Homo sapiens: one gene and its partner. The protein of the gene in region 2 interacts with the protein of the main gene of each other region in a biochemical or structural test. Each region holds a gene or a part of one and is shown on either strand. Other genes may lie near its edges.

Region 1 (7,346 bases), on a different chromosome or scaffold from region 2:
TACCTGACATCGCCATGTATGCTCAGATGAGCACCCCAATTCCACCCCTGCCGAGACAGCTTTCAGCGCCCCCACCCAGAAAAGCCTGCTCCCCGTTTCCATCTCTGTGGATGGCAACGCCAGGCCTCCGGTTCCTGAGGTCAAGCCCAAGGGGCACCCTGCATGCACCTTCCCTGTGTGTTCCACCCCCTCGCTGCCGCCCCTGCTCTGTACCACCACCATCCTGTGGGGGACTGTCACAGCCTCTGTAGTCTCCCTGAGCCCAACTTTGTCCCCTGAGGTCTGGTCTTAGCTAGTGGTCGGCCTCTCCCCTGCCCACGTCCCTGGAATGCCCCAAGCCTCGCACAGGGAAAGCTATGGGCTTACAAAACTCACGAGCCCCCCGGGGTCATTCTCCCAAACCGCCAAGGACGTGTTCTTCTCAGGGCCTTTCCCGGCTGCTTGCTCTGCCGGTCTGGAAAATGCTCTTCCCTAAGACGTGGTCTTTATCTCTGAGAGCCCCTCACTTCCCAAGATGCTCTGTGACGCAGCCACATCTGTCTCCCGCCCACCGAGCACACTCTCCATGGCGGCAGGATGCCCGGGGCGAGCCCCTCGTAGGGAACCAGGCTGGCACTCGGTGGTCCTTGCTACATGCTGAGCTGGGGTTGGGAGCCTGAGAGCTTCTGTCAACAACTCCCTCTAAAGGGTGGTGACCAGCCTGGGCCACAGACCCACCACTGCTCCACCAGGGCACTGTCACACGGGCACTGCACCCTATGACATGGCTCAGCACTGTGACTCACTGGTGCCACCAGGGCTGGCCACTGAGAAATGGGTCTCAGTGGCACCCGGGGTAAAGTCTTAAACAAAGAACCCCAGGGACACACAAAGGCTGGAAAAGTCGGCTCCCTGCTGGGAGCAGATGCCTCGCCTCCCTCGGAGCAGTACCTCCTGCACTTCCCTGAAGCAACCTCACCCGGGCCAGCTCCAGGAGCTTCTCACACTGCCTGGCAGCCCCCTGGCCACCGTCCCCAGACTTGGTGTGTGTGGCTGCCCTCAGTCCTGAGGTCCCGTGGGAGCTTCTACCTGCAAGTGTGGTGAGGCCAAAGTAGGCCACATCTGAGAGCAGCTCAACCTCCTTCCTCCACTCCAGCCACTTCCTCGCACCTGAGAGGAGAAACAGTATTAGTCCGGGGGAGCTGGTGGGCATCCTCTGAGGATGAGGGACCACAGTCCTCCCCCAGTTGTCTAGGCCCAGATCCAGTCCCACCCCTTCCATGAAGCCAACACTCACTCCCTGGCCTCCCTCTCTGCTTCTGTCTCCGGAGGCACCACCTTGACTTGCCTTAGCGTGAGCTGCAGACAGTCTGCGAAGAATCTCCCACCTGTGCTCATCTCTTGCTCCGGGATTCCCCTGAGCAACTGTTCTAGGGCCTATGAGGGCCACATGGAAAGATGGTCTGGGGTATTAAGATTACAGGCCAGAGGCCAACTGTCTAGCATCAAAAAGCAGCTCTCCAACTTGCTGGCTGTGAGGTCTTTCTGGAATCTCAATTTGCTCATCTATCAGAAGAGTAATAAGTCCTACTTGGAGGGATGTTTGAAGATTCAATATTTGTAAAACACTGGGAACAGTGTCTGGCACAGGGGTAAGTGCCAAGTGTACTGTAAAACAAGTAAGTACACACACAAAAAATTCTCATCATGTCACTCTCCTGTTCAGAATCCACCAATGGCTGCCCACCTGACACCCATGGGCCTCCCGGCACGGAGCCTGGCTGTCCTCTGATATTTACCCATGCTCTTCCTGTCCCATGGCACTGTTCCTTTGGCCACGACACCCCCACCACTGGGCTCTAGTGCCACTGCTCCCTGAAACGTTCTGCTGGGAGTTCATGCCTTTAACGACTGCCTGCCCCACCCCCCAAAGACTTGATGGCTTTGCCTTTTTTTTTTTTTTTTTTTTTTTGAGATGGAGTCTCACTCTGTTGCCCAGACTGGAGTGCAGTGGCACGATCTTGGCTTACTGCAACCTCCGCCTCCCGGGTTCAAGTGATTCTGTCTCAGCCTCCCAAGTAGCTGGGATTACACGCACGCGCCACCACGCCCTGCTGATTTTTGTATTTTTAGTAGAGACGGGGTTTCACCATGTTGTGTAGACTGGTCTCGAACTCCTGACCTCAAGTGATCCACCCGCCTCGGCCTCCCAAAGTGCTGGGATTACAGGCGTGAGCCACCACACCCGGCATCTTTTTTTTTTCGTTTTTTAATCGGTGATGGGGTCTGGCCCCGTCGCCCAGGCTGGAGTGCAGCGGCACAATCATGGCTCACTGCAGCCTCATCCCTCGGGCTCAGGCGATTCTCTTGCCTCAGCCTCCTGAAGAGCTGGGATTACAGACGCCGCCACCACGTCCGGCTAATTTTCAGATTTTTTGTAGAGACGGGGTCTTGCCATGTTGCCCAGGCTGGTTTCAAACTCCTGGGCTCAAGCGATCCTCCCGCCTCTGCCTCCCAAACTGCTGGGATGACAGGTGCTGCTTCATTGAGTACACTGGCTTCTGTACTCAGCTCCCGGCCTGGTGAGGCAGGCAGGGCCTGGCTGAGCCTACACTGGGGTCAGCAGGGCGAGGGGCCTGGGCTGCTGCTCAGGCCTAGGAAAGGCCGGGGTCAGTGTGAACCGGACCGAGGTATGAGGCGTTCGCGCCGCGGGCGCTCTGACCCCTCTGCTCACAGGGGAGGATCGGAGGGAGGCTTGAAGCACTTGCCAAGGCCTCACACCTGGAGGGGACAGAGTCTTCCCCAGCCGCTGGCGTCAGCTGGACCTGCCCTGAGCTGGGGACGGGAAGGGCTTGGGCGGGAACTGGAGGCCCACGCAGGTCCCCCGCGGTGTCTGCGGCCTGTGCCTCTGGGGCCACCTGGCCAGGGAGGGCAGGAGGTGCCCCGCACATCCCTGAATGGCCGCAGGGCAGGCGAAGGAGACTGCCGGGTCCCAGGTTGTGGGACGGGCCCAGGCGACCGTGACCACACACGGCAGACACCCCGCCTCCATGAGGGGCAACACCCCCTGGGCCGCTCGCGAGGACGTCCGGCCGCGCCCGGCCCTCACCCGCCAGGCTGTGCAGGGCGCCGCCCGCCGCGCTCCGCAGCCCACCGCGGTAGTACTCGTCCTTCTGCGCCGCGCGGATCACCTCCGGGGGGCTGGCGGCGGCCGGGGCCATGGCCGCGGGTTCGGGTGGTCCCGAGCAGCCACGCCGGCCACGCCCACGCCCAGACGGGCGAGAACTGATGACGGCACGACGTGGCTCTGCGTGCGGCGCAGACCTCTGCGTCAAGGTGCTGGGGCGGGGCCGGACTGGGGCTGGAGGCGGGGCCAGGGCCCGGGCGGAAGCGGGGCTGGAGTCCGAACCAGCGCAGCGCGGGGCGGGGCAGCGGGAAGGTAGTCGGAGGCGCAGGGCGGAGCGGAGCGGGGCGGGGCCCGCGAGCCGAGGTGGGGGCGGGGCACGCGCGAGGGGCGCTGGCGAGGCAGCGGGATGGGCTCGCGGCCGCGTGGTTGCTGCGACCTCGGGGTCCTACGCTGCCAGGGGCCCCTGCTCTGCTCCCTGCACGTCCACGGGCCGCCCTCCCACTGGGGACAGCGCTGCGGAGTGGAGACGCTGCAGGCCCATTTACGGCTGGGGAGACGGAGGCTTTCGCTTGGGTCTTCGGGAAGCCGAGCTCCCAGCGCCGGCCGCGGCGGTCCCGCCCTCGCGCCCTTTGAGCTGCGCGGGCTCTCAGCGCGGGTTGGCCAGTTCCGGGGAGCCGGTCGGTTTGGGGGCCAGAGGGGCACGAGGCGAGACCCGGGACCTTCCAGGCCCCGAGCAGCCGCCTTCCCCAGTAATCCTGCGCGAAAAGCACACGGCCGGCTTGGTGTGGACGCCCCCCTGGTGCCCACGGGAGGCAGGGCCTGGCGGGTGGGGGGCAGCCGGGAAGCCGCCGCGTGGTTCCAGGACGGGCGGAAGGTGGCCTTCCACCCTCCACCCTCCACCCTGCCTGGCCTGAGCCCCGCAGGTGCTCTGGGGAACCACATCGCAGGCGCTCCGATCCCTCTGCTCCCAGGGGACGAGCGGAGGGAGGCCTGAAGCACTTGCCAAGGCCGCACACCTGGAGGGGACAGAACCTTCCCCAGCCGCTGGCCACAGCTGGACCTGCCCTGAGCTGGGGGTGGGAAGGGCTGGGGCGGGAACTGGAGGCCCACGCAGGTCGCCTGCGGTGTCTGCGGCCTGTGCCTCTGGGGCCGCCTGGCCAGGGAGGGCAGGAGATGCCTGGTACATACCTGAATGGCTGCAGGGCAGGTGAAGGAGAAGGCCCTGTTTTTTGGCCCCAAGGGCAGCACTTGGCCCTGGAGAGTCCTGCAGGATTGCAGGAGGAAGGCAGGGCACGACAAGGGGGCGTCTGCGCCCCGCTGACCTCAGTGGGGAGGGCCTCCAGTTCCTTGCCTCACCTCTGGTTCCATCTACAGGAGCTCAGCTGTGGGATCATCCCCAGACTGGCACAGCCCAGTCACAAAGCCAGAGCCCCACACTGCAGGAATGGCCCCTCTTACAGGGAAGGGGCATGGCCTGGGTGGCCCCGCCCCGCAGGCCCTCTGGCTACCAAACCTCCCAGCGCCCCCGCGCCCCTTTGGAGTTCTGACCCCGCGGGTGCACCCGTGTCTCCTGGACACAGAGGCTGCCCTCTGATTGGGTTGAGCACCTTGGGCTGAACCCCTCATCCGTGGACCAGGCAACCCGGCATCGCCCACGTGGAGCCGCTGAGGTGATCATGTGTTCTGGTCAATGCTTAGATAACAGTTTGAGATGCCGCTCTGGCCCCTGGGTTCATGGCTCCACGTCTGATTCTGAGGAGGAGGCTTCGGCTCCTTTGGATTCACACTGGGTTCTATGATGGGCCCCTGACGGGAGGGCCTGCTCTAGGAGGCATCCCCCACCGCTGTCCTGGCTCAGGACTGCTTTCCCCACTCTTCTCATCTGCACCCTGGGCGACAAATCCCAGCCTCACAGTGGGAGGGGCCTGGGCAGGACCTGAAACAAAGTGTCCCAGTGTCTGCTGTTCCTGGGCAGGTGGGGCTTGGGGGTCCCCCACGGTTCAAGCCTTGGCTCTAGGCCTTGGCTGGGCCTTGTAATGGCACCCGCGACCCTCAGTTGCCTCACTCATTGGGGCTTCGAAGGCCTCTGGTGCCCCGAGGGTCCTTCCTGAGGGCGACTTGAATACGGCGGTCCTATCCTGGGATGGCCGGCAGGTGGCAGCGTCAGCCCGTCTGCTCTCCACCGGGCTCCCCGGTAGAGTTATAGGGGATTAGGCGGTGAGTTTTGCCCCAAAGGGAATCGAATCTAGATCAGAACCACTGGCGAAGTGGAGCGACCATCTGCCCGAAACAGCGGAGGGAAGGAAGCGCCTGGAGGGGGTCTCAGGGAGGTGGGGCGGGAGTCAGGTCTCCATGTCCTTCCTGGCTGACCAGGCAACCTGGGAGCTCTGGTTGGTTCCAGGGTTCTGGGGTGGGGCATGGGGGTCCTGCCAGGGGAGGGGGCGTTTGCCGCTTAGCACCCTTGCCTCCCTGTGGCAGCCTCCTCTTGAGCCCTTGGGACTTTTCACAAACTCTGTCCCTCTCTTCTTTGGGGATCGAGGTCAGGAAGGTGGAGGCTGTGGATTTTTCTTTTTTTTTTTTTTTTGAGACAGAGTCTCGCTTTGTCGCCCAGGCTGGAGTGCAGTGGCGGGATCTTGGCTCACTGCAAGCTCTGCCTCTGGGGTTCGCACCATTCTGTTGCCTCAGCCTCCTGAGTAGCTGGGACTACAGGCGCCCGCCACCACGCCTGGCTAATTTTTTGTATTTTTAGTAGAGACGGGGTTTCACCCTGTTAGCCAGGATGGTCTCGACCTCCTGACCTTGTGATCCACCTGCCTCAGCCTCCCAAAGTGCTGGGATTACAGGTGTGAGCCACCGTGCCTGGCCAAGGCTGTGGATTTTAGGGAGAGCAACCACAGGCATTGGGCAGAAGTGGCCAACAGGGCCCAGCCCCAGTCTTGGGTCTCTTGACAGCCATGTGCCTGGCCCCAGCAGGGGATCACCACAGCCTTTAAACCGAGCGTTATTCTTGTTGGCAGCGCCTTACATCCTTCTGGAGGAGCCTGCTCTTGAATCAATAAGCCCCGATATGCCTCACCATCTCTTGCCACTCAGCCTATGTGCCGCCCGGCTTCAAAACCAGGCTGCTGGGGACGCTGCACAGCAGTGCTTCCTGGCTGGCCTCTGACCGCAGCCTGCTGTGCCCTCCGCCGGCCCTGCCATTTACAGGGGGCTCTCACACCCATTCCATCTGAACTCCCCTGGGCTTCCGTCTTCTGGTCTGTGGAATGGGACTGGGTAATAATCAGCTGGTATTTATTAAGAGCCTGCTTTGCTCCTGCCCAGTGCACACATCGTCTGGGGTCTGGTCACAGTGCAGGTCTGGGTGGATGGGCCTGGGACGAGGTCCAGTTCTGCATTTCCAACAAGCTCCCAGATGAAGCCTGCGCCGGAGCAGGGTTCTCAGCCTCGCCCATCACACTCACCCACTTCCGCCCAGCAGCAGCAGGTGTGTTGTCCGACATCCTTCCTCTGGAGGGCCTGCGCTCCTCCGCTAAACCCAGTTCCGGTGCTGTGGGGAGCTCAGAGGCCGGGGAGGAGAGGGAGCTCGGGGTGCAGCCCCACGGTTCGTATCCCCATCCCCCCACCAACACCCAGTGCGGTGGGCAGCCCCGCAGGTGATCTGACGCACCAGCAGGTGCTGCCCCCTGTGCCCCCTCTGGTGGGGTGTGAGCACCACCGGAACAGGGGACTGCTGTGCCTGGGTTGCTGCCTGGCACCCAGCGGTCGCTCAGGACCCCGAGGAGGGCAGGGTGGGCCCAGGAGCTGGACGCAGCAGGTCGGGGTCCCTGGGTGGGCAAAGTGGGCGCTGGTGCTGCTTGAGGGGAGTGGCTCCTGCCCAGCATGGCAGTTCTGGCTTCAGGGGTGTGGCAGTGTCCCCTCCCTTCTCTTTAGCTATACATGGGTTTGGGGATTGAGGAAGGGCCACCCACAAGCTGGCCCCGAGTACAGGGACTGTAGGGTGCGGCCCTCGGGAAGCCCCTCGCAGTGCCAGCCACAAACCAGGAGAACGGGTTCGTCTGCCTGGCTGGAGGCCCTGGGAGCCGCACTCCACCCGTCTGTGGCAGACCCAGGACCTGGAGGTACCTGCAGAGTGTGAGCTGGGGAGGGTGGGCAGCGGGCGGCACTGGGCCCAGGGAGGGGAAGTGAGCCCTGGGTGGGCACAGTCAGGCAGAGGCCCCAGAGCCAAGATGGGGAGGGC
Region 2 (7,891 bases):
GGCTGGAGGCCACCAATTTGTTAAGAGATGGCTTAAAGTGCAAGGATAATGAGGGTTTGAATTAAGGCAAGTGCAGGAAAGATTATTAAAAGAGAGAGTGAATTTGGAGTGGTATTAGCAGGCATTATGGAAGGGGACCCAGGATATGACATTGTCCATACTCCCCAGAGTCCCCTCCACACACATAAGTCTCCCTCAAAGAATAATAATAGCAAACGAGAGCAGTGAAAAGTTAGAATTGATGGCTGTGTAAATACCCAGCAGAGGAATGGCAAGAGAGAGTCTCTGGAATGTGTGAAAAGTCCTGGTGCCCTTCTAGAGAGTTTGAATATTAGCCTGCAGATACTAGGATCTGGACAAAGTATTTAGAATGCATGATCAGATAACACTGAAGGTACCATGGTTAGAACGATAGATGCTAGCCTAGAGTGAGGAGAAATCAGAGTCTGAGAAAGGAGATAGCACTGTAGTGTATTAAAGTAAAAATTTTAATTTTCAGTTTTTATTTTACAAGGAAAGACTGATCTCTAAAGGAAACATTTCTTTTTATAATAAATACTGTTTTTAAAAGTTGAATTGTCATCAATAATTACAGCTAGCAATTGCTTGCACTGCATAATGATGTTTCAGTCAATGATGGCCCACATACACAACAGTGGTCCCTAAGATTATAATACTGTATTTTTACTGCAATTTTTCTATGTTTAGACATGGTTAGATGCACAAATACTTACCACTGTGTTACAACTACCTATAGTACTCAGTACAGTAACACGCTGTGCGGGTTTGTAGCCTAGGAGCAAAAGGTTATCCCATGTAGCCTAGGTATGTAGTAGACTACATCATCTAGGTTTGTGTAAGTACACTCTACGATGTTCACACAACAAAATAGCCTAATGACGCACTTCTCAAAACGTATCTCTATTGTTATGAATGACTGTATGTAGAGGCAGTGCTCTAAGTACCTTACATATAGTATTTGTTTAATTCTCAACTATTATTATTGGTTCAGTTTATTGTTAAGTCTCAGAGAGGTCAAGTAACTTGCCCAGGGTCATTCAGTAATGGGTAGGTAGAATTTGAATCCACAAGGTGATGTCAGAACCTGAATTCATAGCCACTGTATCATCAACACATGTTTAGTTAAATCCAGGTATGTAGAAATTATTTTTATTATGTTGAGCTTCAGAGCATGCACAGGCTCTGGAACCAGACTACCTAGGTTCAGATCTCCATTTCACCATTTAATGGCTGTGAGAAATTCGACAAGTTACTTCAGCTTTCAGTACCTGTTTCCTCATCTGTGAGTGGGAACAATAACAGTGTTTGCCTCCTAGGGTAGTTCTGAGGATTAAATGAGTGAATTTAGTAAAAGGGCTCAGAAAAGTACCTTGAGCATATTATATAACCAACAAAATTTACCTATTATCAATATTATTATTCTAACATAAAGTATTGAGAATAGTGGTATGAAACACTGGATATACTGCATGGCCCCAATTGAGATCTGAGATAGGTAGAATAATGGCTCCTAAATATATCCATTCCCCAATCCCTGTAAGCTGTGAATATGTTACATTATTACCGCAAAAGCAACTTTGCAGATGTAAATAAAAGTTATGAACCTTGAGCGGGGGAGATTCTGTCTAACCAATGGATTCTTAAAAGGCTGTAATTGGAGAGATACAGCAATGGAAGAAGAAGAAAGAAAGATTTACAAGGATGAAAGGGTCTCAATCCACCATTGCTGGCTTTGGAGACGAAGAGGGCCATAACCAAGGAAATGTGAGTGGCCTCTAGAAGCTGAAAACAGCTCTTAGCTGACAGCCAGCAAAGAAACAGGGAGAACAGCTACAAGAGCAAGGGACTCAATTTGTCCAACAACCTGAATAAGCAAAAAAAAAAAAAAAATCAGATTCTTCCCTTACCTCTCTAGAAAGGAACACAATCCTGTGGACACCTTGATTTTAGGCCATTGAGAACCATGTTGGACTTCTGACTACAGAACTGTAAGGTAATAAATTGGTGGTGGTTTGAGCTTCTAACTTTGTTACAGAAATAGTATTAATGGTAAACTAATATAAGATCCATACTTAACTTTTTCCTAAAAGACTCAAATATATTGATTTAGGAACTACATAATATTCTAGAATAAATTTAACTTCTTAAAGTCAGCATTTTAAAACTATATTAGGGACATAAATCAATGTCTTATTTACATTTCTATTGTTAAATTCTTAGAATCTAAAAGTTGCTAAAAGGCTAAAGAGGATATAAAATGCTATTATAAAATGTTTCCATCTTTTCTATGTAAAGGTTAAAAAAACAATTTTAATTTTTCTTCTTTAACTTCTCATAGTTAATGAACAAATTAACTTTGATTTTTTTCCTAATATTTTTAAGTCCACAGCCAAGTTCTAATAAAGACTCTTAACATGTCACTAGAAATATATAAATTCTAGGTTTAAAATAACTCATGTTTTGCATTTACAGAGGTAAACATTTACTAAGAAGAAAATATTCTGTCTTGGTTATTATTTACTTATTCACTGCCTCTGAACTGATATGAATTAGCTCTGAGAGAGTAAGAGCCGTGTCTGTTTTCTGTCTTCACATTTTTATCAACACTGCCTAGCAAAACTCCCGGGCCTCAGAAAGCTTTTGTTAAATAAATGAATGAAAAATAAATATATCTTTAAAAAACTGGAAACAAAGCTTCCCTGGAACCTCAGCTCACCAGCTCATGGGAAAATTAAGAAGGTATACTGTATCTACAGGTTAAACATTAAAATCTAGAACTTATTTTAAACAATTTCAACAGAATTTTAACTGTTGCATGTTTCCCCGCATTCTTAATGAGATTCATTAAATATGATTCAAGTTTCTTGATATCTTTATTATTTTCATTCGCTACTGTGTGATGTTCACATGACATACATAAGGCTCTATGAACCAGAATTTGCTTTCTGAAAATGTCCTCTATGTCAATCAAGTCTTTGTGTGTATTTTCCCCCGTCCCTCTCAAAAATTAAGTGAAGCACAGCACATCTGTAGGCTACCTGAGAGGTGCAGCGTGGTTGGTTTTCTTCACAGTTGCTAAACGAAAGGCCTACTCTTCTTCAGTGAGATTTTTTTACTCTCTAGAACAGCAGTATCCATAGAAATATAATGGAAGCCACGTAATTTAAAATTTTCCAAAACATTCTCATTTTGACATGTAAGCAATATAAAATTAATGAAATACTTTACATTCTTTTTCTTTTCAGACCACGCTTTAGAAATCTGGTGCATGTTCTACACTTAGAGCAGACCTCAGTTCAGACTAGCCACTTTTCAGGTGGCCAGTGACTACTACACTGGACAGTTGCAGCTCTAGAAAATCCACTCCCAAACCCCTAAGTGAACTACATACTCTATCAATTTGTAGCTTCTACTCTATCTCATTTGTACCATTGTTTCACAATTTGGATAGCATTAGAGTTAATAAATTTTATTTTAGCAACTCTGCTCCATGGGTAGTTTCTGAAATAAAAATACAAGCAAAAAAAAAAAAACTTTCCTAATAACACTGGTTCTACAGTATAAGCTCTCCCTCGAATGTCTAATAGAGCTTTCGTAGAAGTGAGTGTTCCTTGTAGGAACGGTGAGTCGAGACTGGAGGTAAGAACTAAGACGTTCTTAAACCCTACTACGTGCTGGAATCCTGAAGTGCCTGCCATCATTCAAACTTAAGCACTAACTCTCTAGAGAGACACTGCCATTCATACCACAGAACGAGAAGGCAGTGGCGATCCTCAACGGCTACATGTCACTGCCTGGTGAGCACTCTTCCCTCAGACCCCATTCCCAGAAGCTCTGCCTCGATTCCCCAGGGGTAGGCGAGCTGGCTGCCCGAATTCCTAAGCGTTACCGGGGAGATGTGAGGGCCTCCGGGGGCGGGAAACCTCAGGCCAGGCGCGCGCTGGCCCGCTCTACGGGGTCTCTCGGGAGCGCTTTGCAGGGCGGATGACTGACGGGCCAGCTACCTGCCTTCCTGAGCCTGCAGAGATAAACAGCCTATCCTCCCTGTGCACACAGGCCCCGAGGGCGGGCAGGTCTCCAAGCGCAGCACAACTGCCCCAGGCCCGACGCAGCCACCTGCCCGAGGGCTCCCTCCCCACCAGGCCATCCCTCAGCCGGTCCTCCTCCGACAGCGAACAAGGAACCCCGGAGGCGCGGAGGCGTCTCGCCGCCACCCGGCGGCGCCTGCCAGAGGCCCTTCGCGATGTCCGCAAGCAGAGAAAGCCCTGCCCTCCCAAGCCCCGGCTTCCCCTAGGCCCCTCGACACTTGTAGTGTCCTCACTTGCGGCCCCTGACCCGGGGCTGACCGGTTCGTGACTCTCCTGCCAATCAGAGACAGAGTTCTTCCGGCCAACCGGCCAATCACCGCGCGCGGGTGTCCGCTTCGGCTTTTCGGCCCTTCGGCTCTTCGGCTTGTCGGCGTTCGCGGTTGTTTGGCCATCCAGTGCCTTCAGCAGCGCCGCTAAAGCGCAGTTCTCGTTGGTGTAACTTTTTCTTTTTTTTTTCAGCCACTTCCGGCTCCTGCGTCGCTCCGGAAGCCTGCGAGTTCCGGAAGCCTTGGTAATCCAGATTCGGCTAGGAAAAGACAAGCTTTCCAGAGAATGTTTCAGAGAAAGTTACGTGGAGCGTGGGCGTTTCGCAGACTCCTAAGGTCAGTGTCTGCCCTAGAGAGCCGGAGTGCAAACCCGAGGTCTTGTTTTCAGCTGGGAGGTCGTGGAGTTTCACGACCTTGTAATTGTCGCCGTTTGCTTTTTTTTCCCTGTTTATTGGCTTCCTGTCTCCCTGGAAAAGGCAAATCAAAGCTGCTGAATTTTGGGAAAGGCAGTGAAGCAAACCTAAACTCCTAAAGATGTTTTTAGGATCGCGGCATTAAAAATAAACACACACACAGCTGCAGTTGAGCCCCTCTGCATTCCACGTAGTAACTTAAGAGACGAACTTCGAAATCTTTTTCTCTCATTTGGCGGTCGTGAAGATATTTACCTCTTATAAACGGCTTTATAAAGAATTGAGGATCCAAACTTTACTTAATATCTGAAAGTTCATGTAAAGTGTTATATGTAGTACAAAAAATTTGAGTGCTTAGTTTTCTAACACTGTTGAAAGCGCACGTAAATGCAGTTTGGTTTTCTTATGGAGGAAGAGATAATGAAAAGTTTCTGATAAAATTGCTTGCGATAAATTAGTTATATTTCACGTTGACTTTTGATAAGAAATCTGAATGTGAGAATTGTTAACATTTTTTCCTGGGTTCTTAAATTAAAAATCGTTGTTTGTTTATTTATTGAGGTACCATTTTCCAAATTTCCCACATTTAGTGAAAGGGCTTTTGGCAAAATGAGCAAGCTGTTGAACGTTCAAGTCTAACACATTCTGTTAAACTTCCGTGATGCCCCTCGGAAATATTTTATCTTGACGTTTCGGACAATTAAATGATACTTGGGCGCTCACAACACCGCAGCTTGTAGTCTAAACACCTTCCCCTAAAGTGTTACCTTTACTTAATCCTGAACAGAATGAACTTGGGGTGGCTCTTTTAACTTATCTGATCTCACCTATATTATCAATTACTTGTTTCCAGAAAGATTACAGTTGAGTGATCTTGAGCCAGAAAGAGATTTGAAAGAATTATTTACAGAGTCAAAAAAAAAAACCCTTCATATTTTTTTCTTAAAAAAAAAAATAGAAGTAACAGGACATAGAGCGAATACTAGACTAGTAGACTGAAGAGTATTAGACTAAATCAAGACAGTTGGATTCTAGTCCTGACTCTAGTTGCCTTTGTACAATTTTACCTCTTGGCCGTATTCTCCTTATTTTTAGAAACTAGTGTTAGTACTCAAGCTGGGGTTTTAAAACTGTTCCATAGGAGAACTTGTGTAGAAATTTTCTGGAGCCGTGCAGGGAGAGACAAAGCAAGCCCACCCTCAGGTTTATTTTAACAAGAGCAGCCATTTAGGTGTTCCGCTTGAATAACAAGGTTCTTGTTAAGAAGATTAAATTTATGTCTTAAACGAGATGATCTGCCTTTTCTTCTAGCATTAAAATTCTGGTTTTTGGGATAATTATTCATTTGTACTCAATGTACATTTATTACAGTTTTTAAAAATAATATATTCACAGCTAATTTATTTCTAAAAGCTACAAATATGTCCCTATTCTGTTTCAATTTATTTTATCAATACAAATTTGAAATGTTTTTCTTTATGAACAGAATTAGAATTTATTATTCCTTCTTCTCCATATCCTTTTATTTTAGCCATAAAAGTTTTGCTTATATTTGATGCACATAATGATTCTTGCCGTAGGGAGGACAAGTATTTTTCATTTTACATATTTGGTACCTGAACGTTAAAGGTATTAGCAGGCTTGCTCATCATCACACCCATTAAAAGAGCTCAGTCCTAGCCCCATGTTTTTCTCACAACATCAAATAATTGTAAGTTTCTTTCCCTCTTGCACACCATCCACATTCTCAGGTTCCAATAGCACAAGGAAAATGTGTGAATGTACACAATCTTTATTTCTGGCCAGAAGTTCTCTCTTGAATTATTTCATTTTTTCCTCTTTTGATGATCTGAGTTGGACAACCTAGAAGCAAATTGGATGTTCTCTGTACCTCTTTTCTGTGAAGTGATAACAGTTTGTAAATGTTTCATGTTCCTTTTCTATTCCTTTGGAATGTACAAGAAACCTCAGGAGAAAAGCCCTAAATTGCTCCATTTGCCCTGTCTGTAATCCTGCTCTTTTAAACCCAGCCCTGTAGTTTCTTTACATGGAAGTGGAGGCAAAGAAGGGATGTCTAGTGTCCTCTGCCTTTCTCCGTGTGGGATATTAGACTTCTTCCTAACATATTCCCATCTATACAATAAAAATACCTTCTTCTATGTTGCTTCTTACTCAATTTAATATATTTTCTTTTTATCAGACATCTCCCTTATTACTGCCTGTCAATAAGATGAGATAAAATTCCATCCAAGTTATCTTTTCTTTCTTCTTACTAGTAAAACAACCAAGAACTTAAGTGTAATGGTGTTTTGATTATGCCTAACCACTGTCTTTTCATTTTTTTGAGACAGAGTCTTGCTGTGTTGCCCAGGCTGGAGTGCAGTGGCACAGTCTCAGCTCACTGTAACCTCTGCCTCCCGAGTTCAAGCAGTTCTCCTACCTCAGCCTCCCGAGTAGCTGGGATTACAGGTGTGCACCACCACACTTGGCTAATTTTTGTATTTTTAGTAGAGACAGGGTTTCACCATGTTGGCCAGACTGGTCTTGAACTCCTCACCTTAGGCGATCTGCCCACCTCGGCCCACTTGTCTTTTAGTGTTAGATGAATGAGTTGGCATTACCTCTACCTTGCATGTATGTGTTCGTAATAGTTAATGTTCACACCTTGAGTTTTTCACTCATCTATTCCTTTTGTTCAGATTTGACATGGTTCTTTGAATGGTCCTTTGACCACATGTATAGTGAAGCAGGGAGAAGGAATATAGACAAAATACATCCCAAGCAACAAGGAAAACTTTACCTCATTCCTTTAATTTCTTTCCCCATCTACAGTCCTGACAGCTTGACTGGCAGTCTGGTCTTTTGAATGATCTTGAAGGGGAAAAAGATTTCTTTTGAGTTCTGTGGGATTAAATTTGATCCAAGCTTAGCAAATGTCCATTCTACTAAGTGTATTTTGTATGTTCTACAGTTTTTCTGATGTTTACCATAAATTTACTTATTACCAGCTTGACTTTAGATGGGTTGTTAATCTTCTCAAGCCTTAATTTTTATCTTCTTAAAATGGAGATGATAATACTGTACTTACTGTGTTGTGAGGATT

What was found. Proteins that work in one complex are often made in the same cells at the same time.
Region 1: the proteins of PEX2 (region 2) and PEX10 form a complex in vitro, tested with the Homo sapiens proteins (one study listed by BioGRID).

What each region holds. Positions count from the first base shown.
Region 1 is NC_000001.11:2,409,303-2,416,648, forward strand, and holds the start of PEX10 (peroxisome biogenesis factor 10), read right to left. Parts: upstream 3,263-7,346; 5' UTR 3,201-3,262; coding exon 3,089-3,200; intron 1,150-3,088; coding exon 1,069-1,149; intron 1-1,068.
Region 2 is NC_000008.11:76,996,810-77,004,700, reverse strand, and holds the start of PEX2 (peroxisome biogenesis factor 2), read left to right. Parts: upstream 1-4,622; 5' UTR 4,623-4,711; intron 4,712-7,891. UniProt on the Homo sapiens protein: E3 ubiquitin-protein ligase component of a retrotranslocation channel required for peroxisome organization by mediating export of the PEX5 receptor from peroxisomes to the cytosol, thereby promoting PEX5 recycling.